Homo sapiens: one gene and its partners. The protein of the gene in region 6 interacts with the protein of the main gene of each other region in a pairwise test. Each region holds a gene or a part of one and is shown on either strand. Other genes may lie near its edges. The genes, in order: CYB561, SIAH2, CLDN10, SLC30A2, MAL, OPRM1 and CCDC167.

Region 1 (3,500 bases), on a different chromosome or scaffold from region 6:
CCTCACACTCTTGCATTGCACGGCCATTTTTTAGCCAACTAGTTCCCATTGTTCAGCATTTAGCTAGCTTTCGATTTCAGTTTTCCACCAAATAAACAACAGGATGTGGTCATCTGCAAACTTCTCTGCAGGGAATCCTGAAACAAGGGCTAGGTTCTGTTTTAGACTTCTGACACATTCCATCAAATCATCTCCCAGAAACATAGCTCCAATCCACATTCCCAGGGTGGACGGGAATACGGGATTCCAGAAGCCCCAGCCAACAATAAATCCTATTTTTGGAACTCCTGCCTCTGTCCTTATCTGTCACCTACACGGGTATCAGTTCTGTCCCCGCCACCCCAAATTCAAGCCCCATTTCTGACGGTTCACTACTCATCTCTACCTGGACATCCCACAGACGCTTCAAACCCAGCTCGTCCCAAGTCACCTTCTCTCCCATCGTCGCCAAGTTCTCTCATGCCCTCCCCACTAGCTAGCAGGGCTGCCCTTCTTCCGGGCCCAGGTGACACCTCAGCTCCTCCACAGAAGGCTGCCCAGGCCGCCGCATGCTGGCACCCCTCCCCTCACTTCCCTCCTGAGCATCCTCACTGCCCCACCCAAGTCAGGGCCTGCAGCTTCTCCCTCTTCAACGTGACAGACATGCCAGGGACAAAGCCAGCTCCCAACATCATGCTGTCCCCTGCGTAAGTGCCCCCGAGTGCCAGTGAAATGCCAACTGCATGGCATGATCCTGCCCGTTTCCATCTGCAGCCCCCACTGTTCCTGCTAGGCCCTCTAGAGGAGACGCCTGGGCTCACAGAATCCAAGGACATGGCCCAGCCTGGCTCCCTGCTGTGGGCCCACACCCCTGCCTCCACTCCTCAGGCACCGCGGTGCGCAGATCACTCTGTCCCCAGGCTCTCCCGGAGCCTCCTTACCCTCGCGGTGCCCTGTCTGCTCCTCGAAGGCAGGGACGCTCTCACTCCTCCTTGGGTATCTTTGGGTCTCTAATACCCCGAGTCTAACAGGAAAATGTACTGAAAGAAGTGCTGTCCCCCCTGGTCACTTGTTGTCTGTCCTCCTCTCCAGGTCGCCGCCTCCTTTATTAGATTCATCCCCAGAGAGCCTGGCTGCAGGCAGAATCTGATTAGCTACAAATTAGGAAGAACAGAGGGGACATCACCTCTCCCTCTGCTGGGTGACCCGGCAACTTCCTCACACCTCGTGGAGTACAAAGGGCAGGAGAGGCCCGCAGAGCGAGGGGCCGCTGCCCACTCCTTCCTTCCCACCAGGCTCCCTGGAAGACAGTGGACATCAGAGCCAGGCTCTCTTCTCGCAGCGACGACTGCCTGCGGCTTCAACATCCTACAGTGAAATGCCCGGCCTGGCCTCCCGGGGAGTCGGAACCATAACATTGTTTGCTCCCCACCATGGCAGGGCAGACGTGTGCTTGGTGTGTCAGTAGGGTGGGGACCCAACAGCCTGTGAGCACCTGCTCTGTGCTGGGCACTTCATGCCATCTCTAATGTCACCCTTAAATGACACTGTGTGGATAACAGGAGCATTGCCCCAATTTGACAGGCCAGGAAATGGAGGCTCAAAGAGGACAAGCGACAGGCCCCCAAATTCCCATCAGCAAATAGCAGCTCAACTCAACCCGCAGCCACCTGCACTTGGCCAGGTGCTAGGGCCACACAGAGGGGGCCTGGTCCCTGCCCTAAAGGGGCGTGCAGATGAGCTTTGGTACAGACCCAATTTTCAGGTAAGGGTGGTACAAGTTCAAGCCAGGAGCTAATCTGGGCCTCCAAGACCCGTCCCAGCATGCACACGGAAGACGGCACCCCTGCTTTGATGTCTGTGGGCAATAGCATCTCTAGCTCTCCTGCCGAACAGTGGCTGCCTGCTCGTGGCTTTGGCCTTTCCAAGGCCCAGGAACTAGGGTGGTGCTGTCAGTCTTTCCAGAGACTGAGGCCAGCAAGGGTCTGTGTTGGAGCTCACTGAGGAAGCTGCTTTGACGCAGGGGAAGCTCCCGGGCGGTGCCCCCCCTCCTGTGCCAGTCCTCCTGCGTCCTCCCCGCCTCGGTTCCACCATGGCACTAAGCACTGGTGCGTGCAAGACAGCAGGCCCTGACCGAAGGCAAGAGGGAAGGGGTTACAGGAGGGCAAACAAGCCGAGGAAGATGCATTTCCATTTGCTCCTAAGGCGGGTGCCCTGGCCTAGGCAGCCCAGGCACCCGGGGCACCTGGGCATCTGGGAGGAAGCCAGAGATGAACAGCGGCCTCTGGAATGACAGCAGCCTGCTTCTGATTCAAAGGCGAGGCTTCAAAATCTAAGTGTAAGGATGAAAGGAAAGCCCATGGCTGGCCTGCAGGCGACCACAGTCCGTAGGTTCTGAGCGTGGCTCTGTGCTTTACAGGAGATAAGCGGAAGATCCCTTCCGCAACAGGACTCTCGTGAGGCCATTCATTGGACATAATTGATAACCCATTTGTGTGCAGGGAAGGGCTGTCCCATGCCAGAGGTGGGGGTGTACAGGGATAGACATTCTGGTATCTCTGGACAGAATCTGACCCACCCACAAATGTGTCTGCTGCATTTGCAAACCTGGACATTGGGTGAGATTTCTCCCTAGGAAGCAAGGCTTTGAATCGTGGCCCTCATTTCCCAGTCTTGACAGCAAGAATACTCTCTCGCTCTTCCCTCCTCACTGGGCAGCCCTGGGACACCGGCTGTTCTTGGGCCCTCTGTGTTCTCAGAGCAGAACTGTGGGCAGCAGCTTCAAGGCCTGGAAGCTGCCACTCCCCACCCCCAAGGGCTCCACTGCCCTGCAGACCAGAACCTTGCAACCAGAGGGAGCTCACGTAGCCCCTCACACAGTCACTTGCCTTCCTCTGTGACAGCTCAGGATGAGGGTGACAGATCTCTGGCAGTTTCTGGATCTTAGAGCTGTGAGAGTCACCCTCGTCCCCACCCACTCACCCTACCTGCAGCCAGAATCCACTTAATGCAATCAGCGCATTAGGGACAGCATGACCCGCAGATCTTCACTGAGCCAAGCATCGCTCTCCCTCCCGGTGCCCACTGCGTTTTATTAAAAGGCAACCAAGACTAATCTCATTATTGGGGACCAGACACTGCACATGGTGCACAGCCTCGGGGGCGGAAGGCGGAGCAGGGGAGGCTGGGAAGCGGGCAGCCTGGGCTGGCTACAGCCCTCCTTATCAACAGCAGAGTTTGAATTGAGTTAGGAAAGACTGTGACTGCGGAAAGGCCGATATCTCTTCTTGATGGGTGAAGGGGAAAACAGCTCAATTGCCCTAGAGCGTCCTAGCATGTGATGAAGGAGAAAGCAAAGTGTGGTGTGAGCTATTAGGGTACTTTCTTAGCACCCCAGTAGCCCCAGGAAGAAGGGGCTTCCCAGGCAGTGCTCCCCATCCCATGCCAGTCCTCCTGCATCCTCCCCACGCTTGTACCAGCATGGCACTAAGCCCTGGTGCATGCAGAGACACCAGGCCCTG
Region 2 (2,772 bases), on a different chromosome or scaffold from region 6:
CACCTGCCGCAGCCTACCCAAGTGCTGAGATTACAGGTGTGAGCAGCGCGCCTGGCCTCCTTGAGGTTTTATCCCCACTGTTTCCTCCACTCACCCTGTGCTAGAACCAGATGGAACAACTCCATCCACAATCCACTTGTCTACAATAAAGCTTTCCTTACCATGTCCTCCTCACCCTGTCCCACCTTGAAATCACCTGTTGCCCTCCTGGTCTTCCTTTACATAGTTGTTAAATTTATTATATGGTCTTTCTCAACTGGAAACACCACAAGGGCAGGATCCACAGCTGATTCCTTCTGTGTGCTCTAGGATAGAGGTTCTCAGCCCTGGAAACTCTTAGAAACCCTTGGAGCTCTTCAAGAAAACACAAGCCCAGGCTGGGCACAGTGGCTCAAGCCTGCAATCCCAGCACTTTGGGAGGCCGTGGCGGGTGGATCACGAGGTCAGGAGATCGAGACCATCCTGGCTAACACGGTGAGACCCCGTCTCTACTAAAAATACAAAAAATTAGCTGGGTGTGGTGGCAGGCACCTGTAGTCCCAGCTACTTGGGAGGCTGAGGCAGGAGAATGGCATGAACCCGGGAGGCGGAGCTTGCAGTGAACCGAGATCGCGCCACTGCACTCCAGCTTGGGTGACAGAGCAAGACTCCATCTCAAAAAAAAAAAAGAAAAGAAAACACAAGCCCAAGGCCAGGGGCCAGTGAGACTTGGCTTTGCTGCTCAGAAGCACCTAGACAGTTTTACATACAGTCTTGGGGAATTCACAAACTACTAAAGTCCTCCCTCGGATCCCTGGATGAGAGCCCCTGATGAAAGTGACAAAACACCCATGGTGCTCTGACATGCCATTCCAGAACAATGCCAAAACTGCTTGAAGTATGAAATGTGGGGTGTGTGTGTGTGTGTGTGTGTGTGTGTGTGTGTGTGTAGGGGGTTAAAATTTAGACTTTAGTCATCATAAAAGTGGCACCAGTTGTTATGAAGACATGAACCTTACCCATGATGGAAAGAGAAGGGATAGATTGCCATGAAAGTTCTGCTTGTTCAGTAAAAGCAGAGTAAGCACCTAAGGCTTTAAAACTATTTATTTAAGTTAATAGAGGATGTAGCAAGATCCTTATGAAAAAACATGAGATCGTTGTCCACACAAATGCAAAGTAATGCCTTTTCTATTTGTGCAGTTTGGGGAGGTTCCCTGTTCTGTATATTTGGGTGGAAAGAAGTGTTGAATATGTGATTTGTAAGGCAAATCAAATAATTCAGAGTATAAATACTCCTACTTGAGTGGGGAAAGTTATAAAATGATTGCCAAGTGATAAATATTTGCTGTAAATGTTGAGTTCGTCATGAATGAGGAGTGGTTTGGGACTTTGGGCAGAGGTGCAGCTGGTACCTTTCTGGGTGCCATTGGCCAAAGTTCATCTCATTCCTGGGCAGCTATGGGGAAAAGTTCGTCTTGAAACATCTTCAGATATTGAGAGCTTGTTTCGAGACTCTGCCAGGCTCTGGGCTATTTCTTGCTATTTTTATTGTGTGTGTGTGTTTTTTTAAACTGGACAGAAATGTCTCACCCATCACTCACAGAAGAACATGAGGAGGCTCTGTATTCCTAGCCACACCCTAGATTTAAAACACAGTTAATAGGGATTTGTTTTTCAGGCCTTATAAAGTAAGGAACACAAAGTATGAATACACATGGATAAATAAATTTGTTTCTCCTGAGTGAGTTTTTTTACAGCCAGGCTTTAGAAATTAGTTCAGAGTTTTAAAAGATGAACAAACAATTCCTATGGGCAAATAAGTAACTGAAATATTTCTGCCAATTTCTGTTAAATATTATAATCCGCTTAGGTATGGGGAAGTGGGGGTTGGAGGATGAGCTACATTTCTTTCTTTAAGCCACTCTCCTTTCCGATTAGGGGAGACTAATCCCCCTGAGAGTGGAGGCTGTCATCCTTGCTTCGGAATCCTCTGAGTGACTGTAACTTAGCGTCTTGTATGGAGAAGTCACATAGTGCATACCATCTGCTTGTTGCTAGTGATAAATTCATCTATGAAGGTTAGAATTTGACCGACTTCAAGTTTAAAAGGGGGATTATTCTATAAAGCAGGGTAGAGAGAAGCAAAAACAGCAGTGGTGCTTTTTTTTTTTTTTAGCAACTGGACATAGCATCTTAGAAAAATGACCTGGCCTTGCCCTTATTTGGTGCCTTCATGTCTCAGTGGAGCAGGGGAATCCAAGTGTAGTTAGCCAGACAGTTCCCCTGCCATTCTGTGCTCCAGGGGTCTAAGGCTGACACCTAGTTTCACCTGAAAAGGTGATTCAGGTTTCTTAATTCTTTACAGAACAGCTTAGTACTCAGGGCAGGTGTCTACTTGTGGGCTGATCTCCATCTGGTATCTAGGAATTAACACTGTCATCCTTGTGAGAGTCTGGAGTAGAAGTTCAGTTCCTCTTGGTGTGGTCTTTTGCCACGGCAGGTATGATTTATCCATTAGGAATGTCATCCCAAGTGCAAGGGAGAAAATGATTTTGTTCTCCTACCCTATTAAGGCAGTGTCTGAGGGGCAGACTGATCATGTCAGCAAACTTGTCTAGTTCTGCTTCCTCCCGGGCCTGTTGTGAGGACCTGACATACCTGACCATGAAATGATGTGCTCTTGAATCTGAGGAAGTGTTGGGGGTCAGCAAGCTTTGAGAGGAGGGTTAGGCCCTTCTCATGTTAACCTCTACTGGCCAGAACCAGACTGACCAGTAGTCTTCTGAGTTA
Region 3 (3,500 bases), on a different chromosome or scaffold from region 6:
TTTCAGCCTGAAACAATGCCATATTTCGATCTAAAATAGTGATAGTAGCACATACCGGGTGTAAGTAAGTATCTGCTAAGCAAATAAACATATATACCTACATCAGGTTTACGTTTGGAATTAAACTTTTTAACTGGAAAAAACCTCTTATGTGTCAATATATGATAAGTCATTTATTATTGGTGTTCAAGCAGAGCCATGATAAATAATAATTCCGAGACCATGATAATCATGAATTTAGGGAGTACATACTAGTGGCCTCCAGTTCAGTTTCTTTTTTTCTTTTCTTTTTTTAACACAGGATCTCACTTTTGCCACCCAGGCTGGAGGGAAGTGGCATAATCATAGCTCACTGCAGCCTCAAATTCCTGGGTTCAAGAGATCCTCCTGCCTTAGCCTTCTGAGTAGCTGAAACCATAGGCGCTTGCCCCCACCTATGGCTAATTTTTAAATTTTTATAGAGACAGTGTCTCGCTGTAATGCCCAGATTAGTCTCGAATTCCTGGCCTCAAGCGATCCTCTTGCCTTGGCCTCCCAAAATGCTGGGCTTAAAGGCATGAGCCACTGCACCTGGCCCCAGTCTGTGTTTCTTTGGAAAAGAATGAAATTGAAGTTTTAATCCTATTCCTTGGACCCATTTTTGAAGAGCAAACAGGAGCTGCTCTACTTAATTGTAAACACTTTAGACTCCCACAAATGCAGACTGCAAGGACAGTGACCTTCCATTGTGTAGTGTGAAATATTTCCATACAGAAAACAATTTCACTAACACCGTGGCTATCAAAAACAGCAAAACAAACTTATTTTTAGCAAAACAGGATAATGAAGGCTTCTTTCATAGCAATCATTGTGCTGCAGGGCTATCTGGGTCTCCGCTGCCAAATGCTGAACCAGCTGTATTTTAAACTTCAGTCCTCGAGCTCCCCAGCCAGAGCCCAGACAGCAGGTAGAGGCAAGACAGAGAGGGGAAGCCTGTCAGTCCCTTGCAAGTTTGAAGAGAGCCTGTGAGGATAACCCAAACTGGTTCATCACTTGCCACCAGGGCTACTCGGACAGTGTGGTTTCGCTCTTTTTGTGAAATTCATTTTAATCTATGGTTTTGAGGTTTTATAGCTGACTCTGACTGCAGTCATTAAATAAACAAAAAAATGGGGGACTCATCCATTTATATATACTCCCAGAAAACATTAGCATGTACCCTAATTTGCATTGCCTTTAGTTACTTCCATGCTTTGTTAACAGAAAGTGCAAGTTGTCGGGAATTTACCAAAGGTTAAATTCTACAATCTGGTCATTTAGAACGCGGAATGCATTTCCCAGATGATAAACAGTGGGTAGAATCCCAGGCCAACCCATTCGATTCTTAATACAACAGGGAAAATAACAGTAGTCTTTGAACTTTATGTAATCACCACTGATAACATTTTTCCCGAGTTTCTCACTCTGAGATGCCCCGTCCCAGCCCTGGTATTGGCAGCAGGACCCACTTTGGTCTCTTGACACAAGCATGAGAGGAGAAGTGGGCAGGGCAGATTCTGATCTGGTCAGGTCCTTCTTTTGTGCCAACCAGAACCCGGATTTGGAAAATGAGGTACCTTTCTCCAGCATGAACAGCAGCCATAACTTGTTAATTTTGCGCATGCACAAAGAAGGCAATTTACAAGGACGATCATTGGCCAGATTTTCTGAAATGGAGAGCAAAGAGCAGGGGATAAACTCCCCTGCCAGCCATAAATGTAATGGAGTTGCTCGTAAGCCTGAGATTTGTAAATTCTCAGTGTTCTAAGGCTACCAGTCCTTACAACACCCACAGATTGGAGCCAAGATGATTCCAACAAACCCTTTCAGAGTTCATCTTTTGCAAAGCAGACCTCTACAGCCTTGCTTTCTAACAGTTCCTGAGGGCAAAACTTACAAGTAACACCACCAGGAGAAGTGTTAGTAAAAACCTAGTCAAGGAGGCCATTATTTTTGACAGGTCTAATTTACTGACACTGTTAATAGCTAATTAACACATTAAGGTGCTGAGGCATGAACATATTTATTTAGAAGTTCTCTGAAGTATAATTTATAGTTAGTTCTCCTGGGAGAAATGGCAAGCATTCCCACTAGCAAAAATAGATGGCATACACTAAAAACAAGCTGGCTGAAAATCATACTCAGCTGAAGTTCAAGTGGTACTTTGAAAGGAGTATGGGTTAACAATAAACAGAAATCACAAGCTCATTCAGCTGTGAAATTTTCAAATAGTAAAATACAGTGACTTTAAATTAATGAACTCTGTTGGAGGAAAGCTTCAAGGTGTTCCTTAAAAGTTAAGTGTTTTCCAAATTATGTGTACTTTATTTTCAATTGCAAATCAGCAAAAAACGAAAACATCCACTTGGTGGAGACAATTCGCTAATAGCACCTGTGCTAGTTGATGGATTTAGGGGGGAAAAAAGAATGTGCTTTTCTTTTCCTGGTAGCTTTGTGTACTTCTGCAAATCCTTTGAGAGAACAGTGGTATGGGGAGGGCAGGAACTCTGAGTTTCACCTCTGGTGCTTCTATTTACCCAAGGTATGTACTTGGTTATAGGACCTAATCTCTTTGAGGCTCAGTTCTCTCATCTGTAAAACAGGGATGGCAGCACCTCCTTCACAGGATGAATAATATGGATGTCTGCTGAGCAGTAAGAAAGTCATCAAAGCATCCCGTCATATTATAATACTACAATGGATTCTAAGCAGAAATTAGAGCTGGGTTCTTAATATGGCATAACGTTAAATCTAGACATATAGCTTTGCTAGGCCTCATTTTTCTTATAAGGAAAACAAGTGGCAATGATACCCCTAGGGGAGGGGAATCAGAGATTTCTTTATATAAGAAATTTAGGGCTGGGCGCATGGCTCATGCCTGTAATCCCAGCACTTTGAGAGGCAGAGGCGGGCAGATCACTTGAGGTCAGGAGTTCAAGACCAGCCTGGCCAACATGGTGAAACCCTGTCTCTACTAAAAATACAAAAATCAGCCAGGTGTGGCAGTGGGTGCCTGTAATCCCAGCTACTCAGGAGGCTGAGGCAGGAGAATTGCTTGAACCCGGGAGGTGGAAGTTGCAGTGAGCAGAGATCATGCCATGGCACTCTGTCCTGGGGGACAGAGTGAAACTTTGTCTCAAAAAAAAAAAGAAAAGAAATTCAGAATAATGACCTCGTCGTTTGACTCCAAGAGTTCTTCTACCTAACACAAGATAGGCAAGAGTCACGAGCCTTCTCTCTCCCTTCCTGGATTCTCTTCCCAATCTAGAGCTCATACCTGGGTTTAAGGGGAGGGCTGTTCCACTCAGGCCACCATGGCCACTTTCTCCAAAGGCAATGTCAGGACCAGCACCCACCAGATGTGGCTGACCTGGGAATGCAAGGTAGAGGACAAACAGAGGGCCCCTACCCTGGAAGCTTCCACTTGCAGGTGGGGGAATCAACTCCCCTCCACAGGAAAACACAGTTGCATGATTTAACCC
Region 4 (4,095 bases), on a different chromosome or scaffold from region 6:
GGTAATGCTGAGCCTGCTGGTGCTCAGAGTAGACAGACCTGGAGAAAACCAGGGTGTCTGAGGTTTTCCAGAAGAAAACCAGAGTCCAGAGAAGCAGAGAGGCACTCAGTGAGGACCCAAGCAGAGCGGGTGCACCTCACATCCTCACTCCTGGCACCCCGTCTCCTACAAGATGAGAGACTGAAAGAGCCCCTTCCTGTCCCCAGTGGTGTGGGCAAGAGGCCTGCACCTCTGACTCTTGGCTCTGTGAAAGGCCATACCCACCAAGCCTATGGTCCTAGCGACAAAGGGTGCTGGGGAGACGAATTGACCAGACAGGGAGGTCTCCAGCAGCTTCTTTCTACACAGAGGGCACCTGTCAGAGGCCAGCGTGGGGGCCACAGGCTCCCCAATCCCCAAGAACCGCCAGGGAAGGAGGCTGCTTCAAGTGGGTGGGGCACCAAGCTGGCCAGGAAGGACAGGGCTTCTCCCAGCGGTACCAACACGGTGGCACCTCCGGCCTGCATCTCCCAGGCTTGCTTGTCAGGCTTCCTGGGGCTCCCAGGAGCCGCTGCGGGGGAGGGGAGAAGGGGTGGCAGCAGTGGCAGTGGTCGTCTCTGCTCCGATGGTGACTGCCGATGACACTGTTCTCTGTGCGGGTGGAGACAAAGCCGGCCACTCCAGATTCTCCTGCGCGCAGGAGAGGAGGAGCTGGCGCTGCTTCAGTGGCGAGGATGGGTCGATCAGTCCCAGCCGGTCCTAGGGAGAGACACTGCCCCAGCCTGAGGGCGGCGCAGCCCACCCCACCCCAGGACCCTCCTAGCAGGAGGACAGGAACGCAAGCCGACCTCGGGGGGTCTCCGGCCTGAGAGGGGAACATGATCAAGCCCAGGGCAGCCGCCAGTCGGAGGGGGCAGACGCGGCCCCAGTAGCCTCTGGAGACCCTCTTCCGAGGCAAGGAGCCACATTCCTGCCGTCGGGACCACCAAAGCGGATTTCTACAAACTAAAGTCGAGAACTTTTCGGCGGCGAGGCGGCGCACCCCGCGCGGGAGAGGGGGCGCAGGCGTCACCCCGTCCTCACTCAGCAACACCCGGCGCCGCGCCGGGCGAAGGCTGGCAAACTTCTCGCGGCCGGCAGGTGGGCTCCGCGGGCCCCATGGGCGCAGGCACAGGTGTGCGGGGCCACAGCCGGGCCTTTTGCAGCCGGCGACCGCCCCCCCTTCCCCGCGGGCTTTTGCACACGACGCGCCGACGGCAGCTTCACACGGGTTGGCGAGGGCCGGATAAAGCCGGCGGCCGCGGGGCGCAGCGGCTGACCCGAGACACGGGAGCGCTTGGCACGCGGAGCCAGAGCCGGAGCTGCAGCCGCAGCGGGAGCCGGGGGAGCTCAGGGGCCGCAGGAGCCGGGCCGGAGTGAGCGCACCTCGCGGGGCCCTCGGGGCAGGTGGGTGAGCGCCACCCGGAGTCCCGCGCGCAACTTTCAGGGCGCACTCGGCGGGGCGGCTGCGCGGCTGCCGGGACTCGGCGCGGGACTGCATGGAGGCCAAGGAGAAGCAGCATCTGTTGGACGCCAGGCCGGCAATCCGGTAAGGCGAGAGCCTGGGGACGGGCGGGAATTTTGGCGGCAGCCGACGCACCTCCGCATTTGCCATCCTAGCAGTGGTTGGTTTTGGCTGCGGCTTGAGCTGGGACCATGCAGGAGGGGTGGGGTGAGGTGAGGGAACGAAGATAATGGGCTGTGGCCCAAGGACCGTCTCTCCCTTGGGGCGCAGCCCAGATTCTGACCCCTGCCCGCGGGGGGCCTGGGGCCGGGGGATTGGCGGTTCCCATGCCTGGAGTCCCGCCCCGCCCAGCACTTTGCCCCAGGCAGCCCCGCCCCGGGGAGGCCCTGTGTCCCAAGTGCGCTGGAGGGGGCCTGCTGTTCTCCCAGAGCCTGCGCTCTGTTCCTTCCCCGCGCTCCACTGGACAGCACGCCCCTTGGCCGGTTCCCAGGGTCTTCACCTCCTCTGGCCTCTGAAGGGCCCCGGGCCCCAGGACTCCCATTCCCCTATCATCCCCGTCTGAATACAGGCTTCTCACCTCTGGTTTGTCGAGCTCGGAGCGTCCTTAGCTATTTTTCCCAGTGGACACAAGGCCTCACAGAGAAATGGGACTAGAGTCGGCCCTCCTTACCTCATCTCAGAGCTGAGCGTTCCCTCTCTTCCCCTCTGGCCAGGTCATACACGGGATCTCTGTGGCAGGAAGGGGCTGGCTGGATTCCTCTGCCCCGACCTGGCCTGGACTTGCAGGCCATTGAGCTGGCTGCCCAGAGCAACCATCACTGCCATGCTCAGAAGGGTCCTGACAGTCACTGTGACCCCAAGAAGGGGAAGGCCCAGCGCCAGCTGTATGTAGCCTCTGCCATCTGCCTGTTGTTCATGATCGGAGAAGTCGTTGGTAAGCACTTTTGGGCTAATTAAATGAAGTTGGTGCATGGATAGACTGGATGTTCCCAGCAATACTGACACTAAAAGCCCCAATTACTGAACACACACTACAGTAAGCCTTTATATACACATTATCTGATGCAGGTCTAACAACAACCTGTGTTCTCACATGGGTGACGTTATTCTCCTTACTTTACAGATGATGAAACTGAGGCATGTTCAGGTGAAGTAACTTGCCAAAGATCACGCACAACTCGTAGCTAAGGGAAGGCCTGAATTCCTAGAAGGGAAGAGCATTTACTGAGTATCTGCTATGTTTTCCAGTCCCTATTTGAACTTGATGTGCACATTCACCCTCTAAGTAGATATTGGTGGCCCATTTCACAGAGAGTGGAAGTTGAGGCTCAGAGAGAGTAGGTCACTTGTCACGGTGGTACAGCTCATGGGTAGAGAGATCTTGAGCCCAGAATGTCCTCTTCCAGAGCCTGTGGTCTCCCTGCTGCACACACAGTCTTGGGAGCCAGCTCTCTGGGGGAGCTGATAAGGACCCTCCACCCTGCAGGTGGGTACCTGGCACACAGCTTGGCTGTCATGACTGACGCAGCACACCTGCTCACTGACTTTGCCAGCATGCTCATCAGCCTCTTCTCCCTCTGGATGTCCTCCCGGCCAGCCACCAAGACCATGAACTTTGGCTGGCAGAGAGCTGGTGAGGATCGCGGTTTGGCTGGAGATGGGGTTGAGAGAGAGGGTGGGTTAGAACAGGGGTTCTTAGGTGGCTGTAATGGGTGGATCCCCCCTTCCTCCCCTGAGTGAGGCCAGGAGGGTGATCTGGATGGGGGAAGAGGATGTCAACCATGGCCTCTGTCCTCTGGGAAATCCTAGTCTGATGGGGGAGCCCTGGTCCCAGTCATCCAGGAGCTCTCAGTCTGCAGGGAAGCAAAGTTGACCTTCCTAAGAAGTGCAGTAGCCAAGCTTCAAGAACAAATGACAATGGCATTAACACTGCACATAACTCTGTGGATCAGCTCTGGGGGGAGGGGAAGGCCAGCAAAGGCTGCTGGAAGATATAGGCTTTAACCTCTCTTCCGTTCACCCTGGACTGCATCGTCACCTTCCTCTTTGTGGGAGATGGCCCAGCCTGTCTTCCCCAGAAGCCTCAGTTTACTAGCTGAACAAAAGGCACATACTTTAATAAGTCAGCTTCTTTACATGTACAACCAAAAAGGTGGACTCAGATGATGACTTATTAGTTCCTTCTAGCTCTTACATTCCTAGATATATGAGGGGTGGGGTAAGGGGCAGCCATACCGGCCATACCTTCAGCAGAGCCCAGTGGGACCCAGGCCCTGACTTTGTGTGGGAGGTGGGTGGGGAGGATCCTGAAGGAAGGGGGAAGACTCCTTAGCTCCAGGCCCATGCCAAGGTGGGTGTTGGGGTTGGGTTCTTCCTCAGAGATCTTGGGAGCCCTGGTCTCTGTACTGTCCATCTGGGTCGTGACGGGGGTACTGGTGTACCTGGCTGTGGAGCGGCTGATCTCTGGGGACTATGAAATTGACGGGGGGACCATGCTGATCACGTCGGGCTGCGCTGTGGCTGTGAACATCATGTGAGTGGGGCCCCAGTTTCCCTCGTCTCCCCTCCTCCTCCCGCCTCTCACACCCACACCTATGTCTGCTTTGCGGAAA
Region 5 (3,500 bases), on a different chromosome or scaffold from region 6:
CCCCCACCTCCCTGCACCTGCTGCCCACCTGCTGGGTGAGAGATACCGCTGTCTTCACAGGTGTTCTCTGAGCTGCTTGACTGAGAAGCAATCAGGAGAGAATTGCATTTGGGTAGAAAAATCAGTGCAATGAAGACTTTGGATTTATTAAAACCAAGTTGTCCCTAAGGAATCAGATGTGGGCATCTCTGACCAGAAAGCGTCCTCTGCTGATGGATCTTAGGTTGCCTGAAGGCACGTGGCAGGGCCGGTGGGATGCACTGTGCATCTTACAAAAATGGGAGCAAAATCAATTAAATAAAAATGCCCAGACCACCATGGAATAAGATGTGTGTGTAGATTTCATCCACAGTTGAGTTTAAGATTCAACAGATTATGTGGCCTTTTCCATAACGGGCACTGACGGAGGGACAGGAGCACATTGGTACAGGCAGGGCTTGGATTCAGGAGGCATGCGAGGGTGGCATGGAGAAATAGGAGGAGGATCCAGCGGGCACATCCAGTGGGAAGAGGGAGGCCCTGGCCTGGGAACCCCTCTCCTAAGTGCCTTTTGCCTGGTGGCTACGTGACCCTCCCAGGAGGACCAATTTAAGTTGCTTCCTCGTTCACACAGTCTCAGGGAGTCCTGCACGTCTTCTCTGTAGCACTCAGCACAAACACAGGTATATTGGGTTAGGGATAACATGGCGCTTTCCCTGACCAGGTGATGGTGGGCTTGAGGTCTGCCTTGCTCACAGCTGCCTCACTGGTGGGGACCAGGAGAAGACCCATCCAGCCATGCATCGGTGTCCAAGTCAGCTAACGGGCCTTGGTCTCCTGGTACCTGGGTGTGGCTGAACTAGAGCCACTTATGAACCAAACCCCAAAGGAGCAGCTTGGGTTGCACATGGTTGGGAAGAGACTCCGTTATGGAATCCCAGTGGGACCCCGTGGGCCAGAGGCGCTTACGGGTGACCTATACACATGCTATCGAGGAACACTGAATTTCACAGTGAGGAAACGATTTTCCTCCTCCTTTACTCTCTTTGGTTTTTCTGATGAAGGCAAGAAGGGCTCAGGGTGGAGCCAGGTGTCTGGAGTTCTCTAATAGCGTGGATAGGCAAAGGTAAACCGGATAGTGACATTGTTTCTATGCTTATGGTTGCAATGTCATTATTTTGGGAAAAATTAACTGTAAAATACATATGAGGTAAATTAATGCACAGATGGCAGCTGGAAATGGCAAATCTGAGAAGGTAGTCCTCAGCTCCTGTCTGCAGAGTCATCTCACTCCACTCCATTCTTCCCACGTGGCTTAAGATGTGACTGGTGTGAGGAATCAATGGCAGGAAAAGTGAGGGGAAGTCAGTGTGTGGAGAGCTGGTCACAGCCTCCTGTGTGCACCTTGCTGGCTGCAGCCACAGCCTGGGCTCTGAGCTTCCGGCAGCTGCGCGGAGGGCCTTGAGGTCAGGCCAGACTCTGCCCTGTTCCAGTGTGTGCTTTTACCAACCTGATGAAGACTATTTTCCAGCTCCCTGGGAAATTCCATGCTCCCCACACTGGCTCGCAGGTTCCTGCAGTCTATAGTGGGAACCTTGTCCACAGTTGTCCATAGAACAAAGCCCACTATGGGTTTAACCCCAGCTCCTGACAGATCTCAGGACCCCACCCAGCCTCTGGGGGCATCACCTTGCAAGTGAGTCCTTTAAAAAATGAGGCCGACTTTTTTCCTTTGCATGGTATATTTATAGCAGTATGTTTCATAGTGAGATGGTGGGGAGACATTATCTTTTTCTTTTCTTAAACAGCTTTATGAGCTATAATTCACAGCCCATGCAGTTCCCCCATTGAAAGGGTATGATTCCCTGGTTTTCAGAATATTCGCAGATACGTGCGTCCATCACCACAGTCAATCTTGGAACATTGTCATCACCTTGGAAAGAAATCCCATGAGCTGTGGCTTCCCTGCCCCCATTCCAAGCAACCACTAATCTACTTTCTATCTCTACAAACTTCCATATTTTGAACTTTCATATGAATGGAATCATTCAACATATGGACTTTTGTGGCTCACTTCTTTCATTTAGTATAATGTCTTCAGGTGAGAAATTCTCTCTCAAGGGGACTTACACAGAATATCTCTACCGTTGCAGCTGCACAGTGCCCCTTTTGGACCCCACCATTCAGGGGGCCCTGGGTGAGTGTGTCTCATGTCCCTGGAGCCTCCAACCCAGAAGCCTCTGAGGAACCACGTTCCTAGGGACGCTCTTACACCAGTCCTTGCCTGTCCCAGAAACATATGAAGGTGAAGGTAGTCACAGATGTCTCAGCACAGATGACATCATGAAAGCCAGGGGTTTGCTCCCAGGGGATGGGCAGTGGGGCGGTCGACCTTCCGCTCAGCACTGCCCAGGAGATGCCCAGGGAGGACTGCAGAGCCCAGGGTCACAGGGGCCATCTGGGGGACAGGGCGGAGGAGGGTGAAGAGCAATCCTGAGAAGAAGAGGAGGATACGGGAAAGGCACAGCCGAGTCAGGAGAGATTTCATTCCCGGCTAGGTGTCTGTGGAACAGAAACAGCTGTTGCCTCAGCTGAGTCATGCCCCTTGCCTTTGGAGCACAGGCCTTTGCCGCGGTCTTCTCTGGGAGAATTCTAATGCAGAGGCGCCCTGCCAGCTCCCTCCCCTTGGCAGGGGACTCCCGTTCTCAGAGGAGCTGTCCTCCGAAGTCACTGTGGGACGCTGCAGCAAGTGATTCTGCCTCTTGGCCCCAGCTTCCTCTCTGCAAATGGCAACTCACAGCAGTCTCCCCACACTGGGGGCTGGTGTGAACTGGCTAAAACTACAGATGTGAGTATGAAGCTTCTGGCACTGAGCCCAGCACTACCAATACCTGGGAATAAGTTGTCGTTCATGCAGGAGGCTGACAGCTCAGTGGAAACAGATGCATAAGCAGCCACTTAACATGCAGGTGGACAACCAGCCCCGAGTGGGCAGAGCAGCCTGGACAGGTGCATAGGGTCAGTCGAGCCTTGGAGAGAGAGGTGGACCTAACTGGTTAACCAGGCCAAAGGACTGGGAGGGGCTCTCCAGAGGGCAGAAAGGGCACATGCCAAGCTCAGAGGATGCTGAAGCAGCTGTGAGGGCTTTGGAGGCTGAAGGCTGGGCAGCCGGGCTTGGGTCAAGGAGTAGCAGAAGGTGGGGCTCCAGGGAGGGTGAGCCTCCAGCCCCGCTGTGTGCAAAGCTGAGATTTGTTGTAAACCATGAGTCAAATCTGGTTCCTGCCCTGCTCCACCTACTAAATGTACAGAGAGCAAACAGAGTAAGAAGGGCACCCACACCAGGGAGTTAAGGCACTCCTGGGCACAGAGCAATCTGTTCCAGCCTGGCCTCAGGACCCCGCTGGCCAAATATTTGTCCAGAGCAAGGGAGTATGTGAGGGTTCAAGCATTTCCTTTCATCAAGGAGACTCCAGGTGGCTCCCAGCCTCCAGGTGGCAGTGCAAAGAGGCAATTATTTTGAA
Region 6 (3,500 bases):
TCTACTGGAGTAATTGCCCTCCATAGGAATCAGCCTGGCACTCACAAAGGCACTATTTGGAAGTTCAGGAAAGTTCCCTTGACCAGGAAATGGAAGCCTGTGGAAAAATGCTGCCCTTGCTCCCCTCTCTCCTGAGGTGTACAATTCTGAGGTGCCAACTACAAGGCACATCAGAAGGCCCCGCCCACATTGTGACCGTCTCAAAAACATGCCTCGTTTTCCTCTTCCCTGGTTTACTCTTCTAGTTTCCCACTCCTTGCCAAGCAACCACTTTTCAAAATGGTTCACCTTCACACAAGGTCGTATCTCACACTCTGCTGAATATCCTTCCTGTTATTTTATAATTGGTGACTATACGTTAGCACAGTAAAATCTGTTTAATAAATAGAGCTCTTACAGACCTATCAATAAAGGTTTTCTCTTAACTATCAAAAACTCGTAAGAAAAATTCTGATAGGCAGCACCAGTTAGAACTACCAAGAGAGTTCAGAAGCTAAGCTTTTCCTTCCATTTTTGTTCCTGCCTTGGGATTTAGGAAAGGCTTTTTTGGGTAGGTTTGGCTGAATGGAGAGAGAGTGGGCACCAGTCATGTCCAGTGTTCAGTTTACTTCTTCTTGAGCTCAGGATAATAGGAGCAGAATTGTGTGTGCCATGTAAAGGAAATAAAGCCTCCTGTGCCTTCTGGCAAATTATCTGAGGGTATAAGAAAACAAACAAACAAAAAATCCTGCCACTCCCTTTTCCATTAATTTCATGTTATATAGTAACGTTAAGAGTATCTTGTGATTAATTGAGCTCAAGAAAATTTCAGTCTTCAAAAGTGAGCTGAAGCATCAAATGCAGGAAACGTCATATACAACAAGCATCATATACTGAGCTTACCAAGCAACTCCTTTCTTTACCCATCCTTTCTTGCCTCAGGTAACTTTTTTTCTTTCCCCATCAATTTCTCAGATACAAATTTAGAAAGGAAGAACAGCAAGGAAGAGAAACCTTGCCCTGGCTCAGGGCCCCAAGTGTCAGTTGTGGCTCGACTTCAAGGCACTCTGCGCCTCACTCTCCTTATCTGTAAAAAGGTGCGAATTGGACTAAAAAAATCTTAAACGCTTTCTAGTACTAAAATGTCCTATGGCAACTTCAATGACTATTAAGAGCATGTTTTTCCCAGCAATACAATCTGGAGGAAAAGAGGAATCATCCACAAAACTAAACAATCGTGGTTGCCATTCCATCACAGCCCTTTGGATTCTATATAAGCTCAAATAGGTTCTGTCAAAGGGAGAAAGAGTGAGTGTGCTCTGAACTGCCAGGTGTGGTGTTTATGATTAGGACAATAAGGGAAACAGAAAGTTACAGTCAAGCCTTTATTCATATGCTTCGAGAGTACAGGCAAGTGGTTAAGTGGGAAAAGGTGCAACCCCATCATGTTTCATTCCCCCCACCCCCACCCCACAGAAGCCACCAGGTGAGCATCACATGTTTGAGCAGAAATGCAGGAAGGAGAGGGAAAAGTCATCTTCTTACTGCACTGGGAGGCCCAAGCAAAAGGTCCTGCTGTTTTGTGTACCTGAGGGCCTGGGTGCAAGATGGGGAAAGACAAGGAATGAAAAACAGTGAGTCAGAGTATGTGCTGCCTCCTTAAGGGTTAGGAACGCATAACCTAAAAGCGTGACTGGCAAAGGTGGAGCGTGGGCAAAATTCTCTCTCTCTCTCTCTCTCTCTCTCTCTGTCTCTCATTCTCTGTTTAATTTTTAGGAGATGGTTTTAATATTTGCCTTTAGGTATTAGTCCTATCCTGGATGTTGTATTCCAAATCTGATGCAAAGAGGTTCCACCAAATCTAATCAAGTGAACTTTCGTAAACCAATGGATAGGGCTTTCCCATAAGATGAAGTGTGTGATGGGTTTAAATGAGAGAGAGATCATTCTGTTCTGGATATGTGTCTGTCCAGGCAAAAATGTTGTTAAGTACAATTTTTGTTTGTTTGTTTTTTGTTTGTTTTAAATAATATGTTAGCTTATGCACTGTATGTAAGTAGGTGTCTTCGTGTGTTCAGGCTGCTATAACAAAGTACCATAGCCTGGGTGGCTTACAAACTACAGAAATTTACTCTTACAGTGCTGGAGGCTTGAGGAGTTCATGATGAAAGCACCAGCAGATTCTGCATTTGCTGAGGACCTTCTTGCAGAGACAACTAACTTCTCCCCATTTCTCCACAAGGCAAAGAGGCAAGGAAGCTCTCTAGGGCCTCTTTCATAAGGGCATTAATAGTGTTCATAATGGCTCTGCTCTCATGACCTAATCACCTCCCAAAGGCCCCACCTCCAAATACCATCACACTGGGGAATAGGTTTTCAACATGTGAATTTGAGGGGAACACATTCAGTTTACAGTAGGTGTCCTAAGTGATTCAAATATTAACCACTCATATTCACTGAAAACCATTAGTGTGATTTAAATTAACGTTTACGTAAATTAGGCCAACCTGATTCCTTCACTATCTTCCAATATGCTTCATGTTTATCTCTTCTATACTGTTTCCTTTATTTTTCTTTCTCTCTGTTTTCCTGTAACGTATCTCTCATTCTTTTCCTATCAAAATGTTTCTTGTTCTTCAAGTATCAACTTAAATCCATCCTTTCTTACAGCCTCTCCAAAGTACTCCTACAACCAATTTCCCTGCAATATAACCCAAAATACATGCTACCATTGTTAAAAAAAAATTATGCATTTTCTCATGGCCTTATAAAATGTCACTTGATAAAACTTAAAGACTTGAACTATATCTATCTCTTTGTGTTTAGGTGAGAAATCCAACATTCAAAGTTGACCAACAGAACTGAATATCTTCAAAATACTGTACAATTCTAAGCTATTAGCAATTCAGATGTACCTCAAATTATTCAAGTATAAAATCTAATTTAAATAATTTTCTCAATTCACTTTGTTCATGCATATTTAGCTTTTATCACTTGAGTCATGAAAAGTGATCTGTACCATAGATACATATTAGCAAATCATAAATTCAAATACAAACACATACATGTCTATATATGCATATATTCCTGAGTTTACAAACTTTAAAAAGGGAATATATGGTTACTCTTATAATAAAAACTCAGAAAGTAAAATTTGAAGAAGTAAAAACATAAAAAGTTAATATAGTCAATTCCCATTATTCATGATAGTTATGGTCCATAAAGTCATTATGACTACAGAATTCGTGAGTACTGAAGCTTTGCTTCTAGGGGATATATAGGGCAGGTTCCTGTGAGCCTCTGATTATAAAATTTTCATCAGCTAATGCATTCGTAACCTTGTTTTATGTGTGTTTCTGTTTAAAGACGCTTTATTTAATATATAGCTGATTCACTAACGTTGAACTCATGGTTAACAGCACTATAAATCATGCCTGAACAAAGCTTCTGTAACACAAGTACTTTCCTCATAAGCCACATCACAGTCTTCTTGGCTTAGGGACACTAAGCAGAACTTCCAC
Region 7 (3,500 bases), about 120 Mb from region 6:
GTAGAGACAGCCAAGGCAGAGACCTAGACGGCACAGTGTGGGGGCAGAGAGCAGGTGCCCCCTGCTGTACAATAACATTAAGAACCACCCGTGCATTATATTTACACTCAGAAAACCAAGGTCAATTTTTACATGGGGAAAAAGCACTGTGTCCCAGTCACTGAGATGAGTCAGCAGGGGGCACAGGGCTGCGATCTGCAGGGGCTTTGGGGACCCCAGGAAGTAAGAGAGGCGATGGTATGAACCCACTGTCAGCCAGCACACTGCTTCCTGGCATCTGGCCCAGCCTGAGCCCTGGGGAGGCGCTGTGTGAAGCCCTGTGTGAGCGGTCCAGGGGCCCAAGGAACAGGTTGGAGAGTGTGAAGGGTGTCCTGGGGAAAGTCTGTTCTTTACCCAGAGACCAGCAGTGGCTAAAAACTGCCTGGGGGGATGGCTGGGGAGTCTGCCTAGGCAGGGGAGACACAGAGCACAAAGGAAGAGGGGAGGAGGAAGGAAAAAGAGGCATATGAGGCAGGGAATGGAGAAGGAGCATCCCTCAGGTAGACAGGTGGGAAAGGCCCCAGGGGAGGCCTTAGGGAGTGGGACCCAACAAGTCCGTTCTTTTAACAGAAAAGCCCCGTAGTGATGCTGCCTAAATTACTGAGAACTGCTGCTTCTCAGTATCAGAGCCTGGGGCAGGGAATTGAGGCCTGCTGGGTGAAGGAGTGAGCTCAGCGAGGAGACCCATGAGACCAAAGGCCCTCCACAGAGGGGGTGTTCTGTGCAGAAGAATGAGAAGATCTAAAGTCAGCCCAGCAGTCAAGGCTGCAGAGGCTGTGTTGTAGGCCTGAGGGGTGCTGGGGACAAGGCCCTAGCCAAGTAGGGCCGTCAATCCTGCTGGCAGGTGCCAAGAGCAGAAAGGGCTTCTTCATGCCCAGCGGCAGGGGCAGGGACTCTTCCTGCAGCCTCCCTGAGAGCCCATCAGACAGATGCAGCTCCAAGCACCCGGGCCTGGAGTTCAGCAGCCCCCAGGCAGATAAGCAAACTCCCCTCTGCAGCCTGACTTGGGGAATATCACCTTATTCTGGGAGCTTTAAGGAAGTCTCCCTGGGGTCCTATATGCCATAAAACCACTGTGTTAAGAGAAACTGTAAAATTCGTGTGAAATCCCCGCGAGGCATCTTTTCAGGAGTGTAGGCCCTCTCAGAATCAGAGCCCCACGGAGGCCTCACTGGGGGCAGGGAATTTCGTGCCAGCTCATGCACAGATAACTGCCCCAGCATCCTGGCCAGGTCAGCTGATGGGGTGCCAGCTCCACGGCTAGCTGCTGTTGGGGGCCTCATATGCAGCTTTTCTGCCAACAAGCACGAGACAGTTCGAGCCACAGGCTACCGTTCACTCTATTCTCCTACTGAATGGTGTTCCCACAGAGCATCTAGACAGCCGGGGAGGTGGCTCTCTGCCCACTCCCTAATGAACCACTGTCTAGGGCCAGACCTGTTTCTGGGAAAGGGCAGAAGGCACCCCCGGGGCCTGGTGCTGGGCTACACAGGCCACTCTGCTTTCTGATTTAGGAAGCTGTTTGCTGTCTCTCCGGCTTTACTCTTGGGAGCTTCTGGCCAGCGAGTGACAGGTTTGCTACAGGGTCAGGCAGTGGTAATGGGGCATACACTGCACCTGGCTGGACAGGTCCTTACTGGGCACTCAGACCTTCCAATAAAGAGCGTGGTGCCAGGGTAGCTGAGCCGAGCCAAGTCACAGAGTCTCCAGTGTCTGCATGACAGCATGAGTGTAAGCAGCCTCTGGAAACCAAAAGTCCCAGCAAAATGGAACCACAACAGTGACAGCAGCAGCAACACTTCTGTAGTCTGTGCTGTGTGCCAGGCACTGACCTACATGCTTTACACCGATTAACTCACATAATGCTCGCAAGAACCCTGTGAGGTGGGCAGTATTATCAGCATCCACATTTGACAGATGAGGGGACTCAGACATAGGTAACTGTCCAGGGTCACACAGGCATTAAGTCCGGGAGCTGGGCAGCCACGTCTGTGCCCTTAACCACCATGCCACATGGAGAAGGCAGCGCTCATCAGCTCTGAGGGACTCCTAGCTCCTGGGCACAACCTCCACACCTTACCCCTGGAGCTGGGCAGGTTGTGGGCAGCTTCCTGTGTCTGCAACCGCCCTGCAAGGAAGGGCCCATCTCCATCTTACAGAGGTGCAAGCTCCCTTGCAGAGGTTTTCAGCACCTTGCCCAAGGTCGTGTAACTGGGAAGGGGCAGAATTGAAGCCTGAATCTGGGTTTTTCTGCTTCAGGGCTTATGCTCTTTCCACCACTTCAAGCTCTTTCTCCAAAATCCCTCATGAAAACATTCATGACAAGAGTTCTGCAGAACAGTCATTCCACATCCCAGCTGAAGCCCATCTAAGCTTGCTGATCTGGCTTCAACAGATTCTCTACTCGGAATAATCTTGTACAAGGCTCTGCTCAGTTTCTGTCTACATAACAGATACTCTCTGTGAGGGAAAGCCCTCATTGAAATTTGTTTGTTGAGACAGAGGAGACAGGAGCCCAGCGTCTGCCCTTACACTGGGCCAACTCAATGAGCTTCACAAACATCCCAGGCATTTTGCCCCAGATCACCTCGACTGTCAAAGCATCCTCCAAAATTCACACAAAACAGATCCAGTTTGGAGACGGAAAAAGGTGGGCTACTTGGGCCTGATAAACCCTTCTTTCCCCAGCAGTACCGAAGCCTTCCCTTTCACTTGCTAATTCACAGCCTGGAGAGTGGTGTCAGCTGTTTCATCTCCAGCCCCAGCAGCCTGGGAACTGGATTTTTGAAAATTCACTCATTTTCACACGTCAGGAGACCCCAGGACATTTATTATAATGGGTAAAGCAGCCAAGTGCCTGCCCAGATGGTCTCTGGCAAGAGTGCAGGGGCTTTCCATTTGGAGCCTTCAGGCTCCACAGCAAGTCACACGGGGTTCTTAGGCCTCAATTTTCCAGGTGACAAGCCTCAAACCCCAAGGGGCCCATTATCCCCACATCGTTTAAGGGATGTTTTTCTGTGGAGGCGGCTCACAGAGCTCTGTGGGGGCAGAAAAACCTCCGCCCATGGCTCCCCACATCAACAGGCCCTGTAAGGATTTCTCTCGCAGGTTGTGCAGCTGAAGACGGCAGACCTTCCCAGTTTTTAATCAATGAACAATTTTCAGGAAGAGCAGGGAGAGCCTAGGGGCTTGTCGCTCGCCTGGACACACCCCCATGCCAGGTCAGAAAGGCGAGGGAACCGCTGCAGCCCACGCGAGTCCCGACGCCTTCCCGCGAGGAGACGGAGGCCGAGCCAGCCTTGCAAGTTAGCGCCCGAGCCAGTCCGCGCCCGAAGATGCCAGCTGTCCCTGGGCCGGAAGGTGGTGTGGGGTTTGTTTTGTCTTCTTTCCCCCCGATATCTATTTTTTGATAAACTAGCAAAAGCTTGTTCATCGCTGAAAGGCTCAAAGCACTTTTCAAG

Evidence for each region.
Region 1: the proteins of OPRM1 (region 6) and CYB561 interact in binary tests that used the Homo sapiens proteins (3 or more experiments, as listed by UniProt).
Region 2: the proteins of OPRM1 (region 6) and SIAH2 interact in binary tests that used the Homo sapiens proteins (3 or more experiments, as listed by UniProt).
Region 3: the proteins of OPRM1 (region 6) and CLDN10 interact in binary tests that used the Homo sapiens proteins (3 or more experiments, as listed by UniProt).
Region 4: the proteins of OPRM1 (region 6) and SLC30A2 interact in binary tests that used the Homo sapiens proteins (3 or more experiments, as listed by UniProt).
Region 5: the proteins of OPRM1 (region 6) and MAL interact in binary tests that used the Homo sapiens proteins (3 or more experiments, as listed by UniProt).
Region 7: the proteins of OPRM1 (region 6) and CCDC167 interact in binary tests that used the Homo sapiens proteins (3 or more experiments, as listed by UniProt).

Annotation. Positions count from the first base shown.
Region 1 is NC_000017.11:63,439,807-63,443,306, forward strand, and holds part of CYB561 (transmembrane ascorbate-dependent reductase CYB561), read right to left. Parts: intron 1,022-3,500; exon of another isoform or gene 921-1,021; intron 462-920; exon of another isoform or gene 394-461; coding exon of another isoform or gene 386-393; intron 1-385. UniProt on the Homo sapiens protein: Transmembrane reductase that uses ascorbate as an electron donor in the cytoplasm and transfers electrons across membranes to reduce monodehydro-L-ascorbate radical in the lumen of secretory vesicles.
Region 2 is NC_000003.12:150,743,398-150,746,169, reverse strand, and holds part of SIAH2 (E3 ubiquitin-protein ligase SIAH2), read left to right. Parts: intron 1-2,772. UniProt on the Homo sapiens protein: E3 ubiquitin-protein ligase that mediates ubiquitination and subsequent proteasomal degradation of target proteins.
Region 3 is NC_000013.11:95,555,720-95,559,219, reverse strand, and holds part of CLDN10 (claudin-10), read right to left. Parts: exon of another isoform or gene 3,296-3,500; intron 1,722-3,295; exon of another isoform or gene 1,642-1,721; coding exon of another isoform or gene 1,596-1,641; intron 1-1,595. UniProt on the Homo sapiens protein: Forms paracellular channels: polymerizes in tight junction strands with cation- and anion-selective channels through the strands, conveying epithelial permeability in a process known as paracellular tight junction permeability.
Region 4 is NC_000001.11:26,043,319-26,047,413, reverse strand, and holds the start of SLC30A2 (proton-coupled zinc antiporter SLC30A2), read left to right. Parts: upstream 1-1,295; 5' UTR 1,296-1,517; coding exon 1,518-1,567; intron 1,568-2,196; coding exon 2,197-2,417; intron 2,418-2,969; coding exon 2,970-3,116; intron 3,117-3,862; coding exon 3,863-4,016; intron 4,017-4,095.
Region 5 is NC_000002.12:95,042,708-95,046,207, reverse strand, and holds part of MAL (myelin and lymphocyte protein), read right to left. Parts: intron 324-3,500; exon of another isoform or gene 61-323; intron 1-60. UniProt on the Homo sapiens protein: May be involved in vesicular trafficking from the Golgi apparatus to the cell membrane. Plays a role in the maintenance of the myelin sheath, and in axon-glia and glia-glia interactions.
Region 6 is NC_000006.12:154,045,740-154,049,239, forward strand, and holds part of OPRM1 (mu-type opioid receptor), read left to right. Parts: intron 1-3,500. UniProt on the Homo sapiens protein: Receptor for endogenous opioids such as beta-endorphin and endomorphin. Receptor for natural and synthetic opioids including morphine, heroin, DAMGO, fentanyl, etorphine, buprenorphin and methadone.
Region 7 is NC_000006.12:37,489,894-37,493,393, forward strand, and holds part of CCDC167 (coiled-coil domain-containing protein 167), read right to left. Parts: intron 1-3,500.